Regions from separate parts of the Homo sapiens genome. Here region 1 is linked to region 2. Evidence: fine-mapped expression QTL. A gene starts in region 2. The other region holds a variant in brackets. All regions are shown on one strand. Distances are from middle to middle. Region 1 overlaps LOC105369225 (a long non-coding RNA gene). Region 2 holds the start of ARHGAP27 (Rho GTPase activating protein 27).

Region 1 (2,902 bases), 60 kb after region 2:
TTTCTTTTTTTTTTTTTTTTTGCGACGGAGTCTGGCTCTGTCGCCCAGGCTGGAGTGCAATGGCGCGATCTCGGCTCACTGCAAGCTCCGCCTCCTGGATTGACGCCATTCTCCTGCCTCAGCCTCCCGAGTAGCTGGGACTACAGGAGCCCGCCACCACGCCCGGCTAATTTTTTTATGTTTTTAGTAGAGATGGGGTTTCACCGTGTTAGCCAGGATGGTCTCGATCTCCTGACCTGGTGATCCACCCGCCTCGGCCTCCCAAAGTGCTGGGATCACAGGCGTGAGCCACCGCGCCCGGCCAATCTTTTCATTTTTAAAAAAATTTGTTTATTTTGTAGAGACAGGGGTCTCACTGTGTTACCTAACCTGGTCTCCAACTCCTGGCCTCAGGCGATCCTCCTGACTCGGCCTCCCAAAGTGCTGGGATTACAGGCATGAACCACCACACCTGGCCTGTATATCTTCTTTCTAACGCAAAAGTGACATTTCTCTTTCAGATGAACTCGGAACAAAATGTCATAAGTGGTGGCCACAGGTAGTGAAGAGCAGGGCAGGGAGTGTTGGCAGGGACCCATGCTCTGGACACTTTATACTTGCAGGCTTTGGTCAATTGGGAGCCTAGGGCCTGAGTGTGGATGAGGAGAGGTACTGCTACATGCCAGTCCTAAGTGGGCACAGGGGTTGGCTGGGGAACGGGCCAGTTCTTGGAAGCAAGCTTCACTGCCCTCGGCCTGGGCGTCCTGTGCTCTTTTGGCTTCTCTGGGTAGGAAGGTGTCCCTCTTATCTCTGCAAAGTTCAGAGTCCCACTGTCTGCTTTCAAGTATAAAACCAGCACTTGGGGGTATGACCCTGGACTGTATGAGGGCCGCCCTTTCAGTAATTCTCTCTCCAGGAGTGAGAACCTCCCCTTCTCAATTTTAGACTAGATGGGTCTGAGTGTGTTTACTGCAGTTAATGGTTGAGCAGGAAGATTAGAAATAAGGACATAGAGACAAACTATTCTCTCGGTGTTAAACTCATTTTAAACAAAGTGGAAAGTAAGGGATTTAGTAGGGAAATCCTTTCACCTTGGCAAAACGATAGTATACAACTGGCACAGCATAATCCTTGGTGGCTTGGCACAAGCATTCCCTGTCCCCCATCAAGCACATAATGTCCCTCAGTAATTCCACTGCATTTTTGTGCAGCGGCTGTGTGCTGGAGCTGTGGGGAACCCCTCGGTAATCTCTTGTCTGCTTTTTAGGAGCCCCTATCTCCTGGTCTTCTCTTACTTCCCAAGCTACCCTGCTTCTTTGAAAAGTCT[T/G]CAGGCTTGCCTACCTCTTCTCAGCTTGCTCTGCATGCCTTGGGGAAGCTGCATAAAGCATGGATCATGAAGGAGGGGGCGCAGAGGAGAGGGAAATGCATGTTTGCACAAATGGACCCTGAGCCCACCAGGCAGGCTCCAGATGGGGGGGAAAAAAAAAAAAAAAACCCTTACATTATCACGTGACTTGCGCAAGAAAAAAGGTACCTGCAAAGGGCCAAGGGACCAGAGAGGAGAACTTGAGAGGTATTCTGGAGGAGGCGACTTTTGATATGAGCTTTCTAGGTGAGTAAAGGGTATTGCAGCTGAAGGGACTGGCTGGTAAGTGGCCAGCACATAGGAATACAGGCTGAGCTCAGGGAAGGGTGCACCCAGAGGTGGGGAGGAAGGTGGGAAGTGAAAAAGGAGGCTGGGCACGGTGGGTCATGCCTGTAATCCCAGCACTTTGGGTGGCCGAAGCTGGTGGATCACTTGAGGTCAGGAGTTCGAGACCTGCCTGGCCAACATGGTGAAAGCCCATCTCTACTAAAAATACAAAAATTAGCCAGGTGTGGTGGTGTGTGTCTGTAGTCCCAGCTACTAAGGAGGCTGAGGTATGAGAATTGCTTGAACCCGGGAGGCGGAGATTGCAGTGAGCCAAGATAATGCCACTGCACTACAGCCTGGGCGACAGAGTGAGATCCTGTCTCAAAAAAAATTTTTTTTAAATAATAATAAAAATAAATAAAAATAAAAGGAAGTGAAAAAGGAAAGGGTAAGGGGAGAGGGCCAGAATGGAAGGGGAGCTGAAGACTGAGCAAGGCAAAGTTGGAGGCCAGTGCAGAAAGGGCTCAAACCATTTGCAAGGATGGTTCACATCCCACTGGTCTGTCAGCTTGGATTTAAAGCACTACCCAGCGTTATTCAAAGCCACACAGGAGAACTGTAGGCATCAGAATGCCCTGGGGACAGGTCCAAAATGCAGATTCCTAAGCCCCACACTAACCCTAAAGAGTCACTCTAGGATGAGGTCCAAGAATTTGGGCTTCACCCCACCTCTCCTGTCCCCTGCCCTCACCACTGAGGACCTAAAGGATAATGAAAGGGGGAAATCTGTGCCCTAAATAATCCCTTTTGGCAGTTACTTTCTGTTTTCAAAGTTCAAGTCTGTCCTCCGGGACTAACCTAGGAGATGAGGGATAAGGGAATTAACATTTATGGAAAATGGAAGAACATACATAGGCACCTGTGTTCACCTAATATTCCTTACCAGCCACCTGAAAGGTGGGTGCTGCCATTATCTCTATTGTATGGATGAGAAAATAGGCTTAAAAGAGGTTAAGTGGCCAGGTGCGGTGGCTCATGCCTGTAATCCCAGCACTTTGGGAGGCCGAGGTGGGTGGATCATGAGATCAAGAGATCCAGACCATCCTGGCCAACATGGTGAAACCCTGTCTCTACTAAAATACAAAGAATTAGCTGGGCGTGGTAGCACGCATCTGTAGTCCCAGCTACTTGGGAGGCTGAAGCAGGAGAATCGCTTGAACCCAGGAGGCAGAGGTTGCAGTGAACCGAGATCACGCCACTGCACTCCAGCCTGGTGACAGAGCGAGACTT
Region 2 (2,902 bases):
CAGCCGTGTCTGGGTGGGGCGAGGAGGAGCCTGAATGCCTCTGCTGGGGACCTTGGGGGGCATTGGGACGAGGCCCAGAGCAGAAGGCCGGCACCTGGAGCCGGGACTGCTGCGTCTGAAGGGGCACTGGCAGGTCGCGAGCGGAGCCCAAGGAGGATGGGACCGCCCCCGCTCCGCCTTCCCCCTCTATTCCCCGCCCCCCCACCCCCCACCCCCCGGGATTTGCTGTCCGGGAGTGCCTGCGTCCCTCCTGTGCGCGGCTCTGGGAATGCCGGGCTGGGGCTGGTTGTCTCGTGCGGGCGTTCCTGTTCCCGGGGAGGTCATTTGCACCCTGAATCACCCACTGCGAGCCCTTCCAACCGGATTGCAAATCCGCCCGCTCCGGGCCCACCTCTTCCCTCACCAGGGCCTTTCCCGGAGCAGCCCGGCCGGGCCTGGAAAAACTCCGAGCGGGATTCCCAGCGCAGGGACGCCCACCGGAGCTCGATGTCTCGGGCTGGATAAGAAGGGGACCGGACCTCGGTTCCTTCCCCGACCCTGGGGAAACGCAGAGAAGGGGAGGGATTGGGGAAGCCGGGAGGATCCCTGGAGCGCGACAGCGCACCAGTCGCCAGGAGGTCCCCTGCGTCCACTGCCCAGGCGACTCAAGCTACAGGGGCGTCAACGCCTGGGTCGGCGCTGGGGGCCTGGGCCTGCTTCCCTCCAGCCCCCAGATGGAGGGCAGCCCTTCGCCTACCTTCTCCTCCCCGTGGGATGCGGCCCGCGCAGCTCCCGCCCCAGCGCGGAGACAAGGGGAGCAGGCGCGCGGAGCTCCCGGGTGCGGACCCGCCACCTGCCGCACCCTTCCCTTCCCAACCCTGCCCTTTCCCCACCCCCACCCCACTTCCCACCCCCAACCCCCGCTCGGCGCCCCACTCCCGACCCTGCCTGCCCGGGCACCTCGGGGCGTCCGCTCGCCGGCTTCGCCTCCACTTGCCCCGGCAGGCGCGCGTGGGCTCGGCGTCCCGCGCTCCCTCCTCGACTGTGCGGCTCCCGCGCTGCCGGGTTTCCTGTTCAACAATATAACCAGGGAGGCACCGGCGGAGAGCGCCGGGCAGAACTTCCTCCCGGACTGGGGCTGGGCTGCGGTTGCGAGAGACAATCCCCGGTGTCCTGGCTTCCTGTCCCCTCTGGGCCGGGCCAGCGCCTGAGGAGCGAAGACGCCACCCCCTCCCCTGCCTTTCCCGGGATCCTGGGCCGCACCTGGCTGTCTCCAGGGAGAAAGAGGCTGCGGGGCTGAGATGGTGGGACTGGGGAGGGCGGGAGCCTCCCCCGCAGGTTCGCCTGGCCAGATTGCCCTCCCACCATCCCCCACCCCCTCTTGATCCTTGTGGGGAAGGAGGGCCACCCTCCAATCCGTCCACAGGGTAAGCTCAGAACAACCTCCAGGAGTCCAGCCCCAGGGCCCTCCGCCTTGGGGGTCTTCTGTTGGAGAATTTTCTGCCTCTCTGGACAAGCAGCCTCGCCCTGATCTGAGCCTGCACTCACTCCAGACATTACAAGCCACAGCCCCAGCACACCCCCTGCCCTCAGGGGCCCCAAGGAACAGTTGTGCCTGTGGACCTGGCTGTGTGTGCCAAGAGCTGGCTGATTCAGGCCAGTGTTCTGGGAGGAAGAAGGGCCCGCATCCCAGGCCATGGCCTCTCTTGACACCACCTCCTGGGGACCCAGGGTTGGGTGGGAAGCTGAATCTGGCCACCCAGATTCAGAGGAACTCCCTTACCTCTATATCTTTGTAAGATATAGTAAGTAAGGAACTCCCTTACCTCTATATCTTTGTAAGATATAGTAAGTAAGGAACTCCCTTACCTCTATATCTTTGCCTCTGCTAGGCATTGCCCACCTGTGAGTCCACACTTCCTCTGAGAATCTGTGTGTCTGAGCCTTGGTGGCACCTTGGGACCCTCCAGGGTGGGCACACAGCAGAACTCAGCACTGGTCTTTGGTGCCCGACATGCTTAGAAAATAGTGGCTGGTGCCGGGCACGGTGGCTCACGCCTATAATCCCAGCACTTTGGGAGGCCGAGGCGGGCGGATCATGAGGTCAGGAGATTGAGAAACCCTGGCTAACACGGTGAAACCCCGGCTAACACGGTGAAACCCCGTCTCTACTAAAAATATAAAACATTAGCCGGGCGTGGTGGCGGGAGCCTGTAGTCCCAGCTACTCCGGAGGCTGAGGCAGGAGAATGGTGTGAACCTGGGAGGCGGAGACTGCCGTGAGCCATGATCGTGCCACTGCACTTCAGCCTGGGCGACAGAGCAAGACTCCGTCTCAAAAAACAACAACCAAAAAAGAAAAAAAGAAAATCGTGGCTGGAGGAATCTTCTCTCCCTCCCTACCTTTTAGGTCCCTCTCCACCTGCAGCACAGCCAGGCAGTGGCTGGCAGTGGTGATGGTCTTTGCGTGGGGTCAGGCAGGTATGATGCCCCACTCTGCTGCTTGGCGGCTGGTAGGCCTTGGGAGTTCTGCCTTATCTCTGCAGCTCAGATTTCTTTCCTGTCAATGGGATAGTAACACCCACTTCACTGGATTATTGGGAAGATTAAATGAGGTCCACTAAGCAGTGCTTACCACATGCCCAGCGCACACAATATATCAGCTATTTTTTTTAAGACAGAGTCTCACTCTGTCTCCCAGGCCGAAGTGCAGCGGCACGATCTTGGCTCACTGCAACCTCCGCCTCCGGGTTCAAGTGGTTCTCCTGCCTCAGCTTCCTGAGTAGCTGGGATTACAGGCACCCGCCATCATGCCCAGTTAATTTTTGTATTTTTGTAGAGACGGGGTTTCACCATGTTGGCCAGGCTGGTCTTGAACTTCTGACCTCAGATGATCCAACCTCCTCGGCCTCCCAAAATGCTGG

The links. PIP is the estimated chance that this variant, and not a neighbour inherited with it, causes the effect. A credible set is the group of variants that fine-mapping cannot tell apart.
Region 1: its variant is the best candidate, but not a certain one, in a credible set for the expression of ARHGAP27 in cerebellar hemisphere (GTEx, PIP 0.64).

Annotation. Positions count from the first base shown.
Region 1 is chr17:45,491,554-45,494,455 of GRCh38, forward strand. LOC105369225 (a long non-coding RNA gene) reads left to right here. Exons shown (of 5, transcript XR_002958152.2): 1 at 1-2,902. Among named protein-coding and RNA genes, the nearest start is that of PLEKHM1, 2.3 kb to the left of the region's middle. The variant T/G (reference allele first, on the strand shown) is at 1,307.
Region 2 is chr17:45,431,813-45,434,714 of GRCh38, forward strand. It overlaps ARHGAP27 (Rho GTPase activating protein 27), which reads right to left and starts at 1,058. Exons shown (of 20, transcript NM_001282290.2): 1 at 940-1,058; 2 at 404-537. It also overlaps a transcript of PLEKHM1 not described here.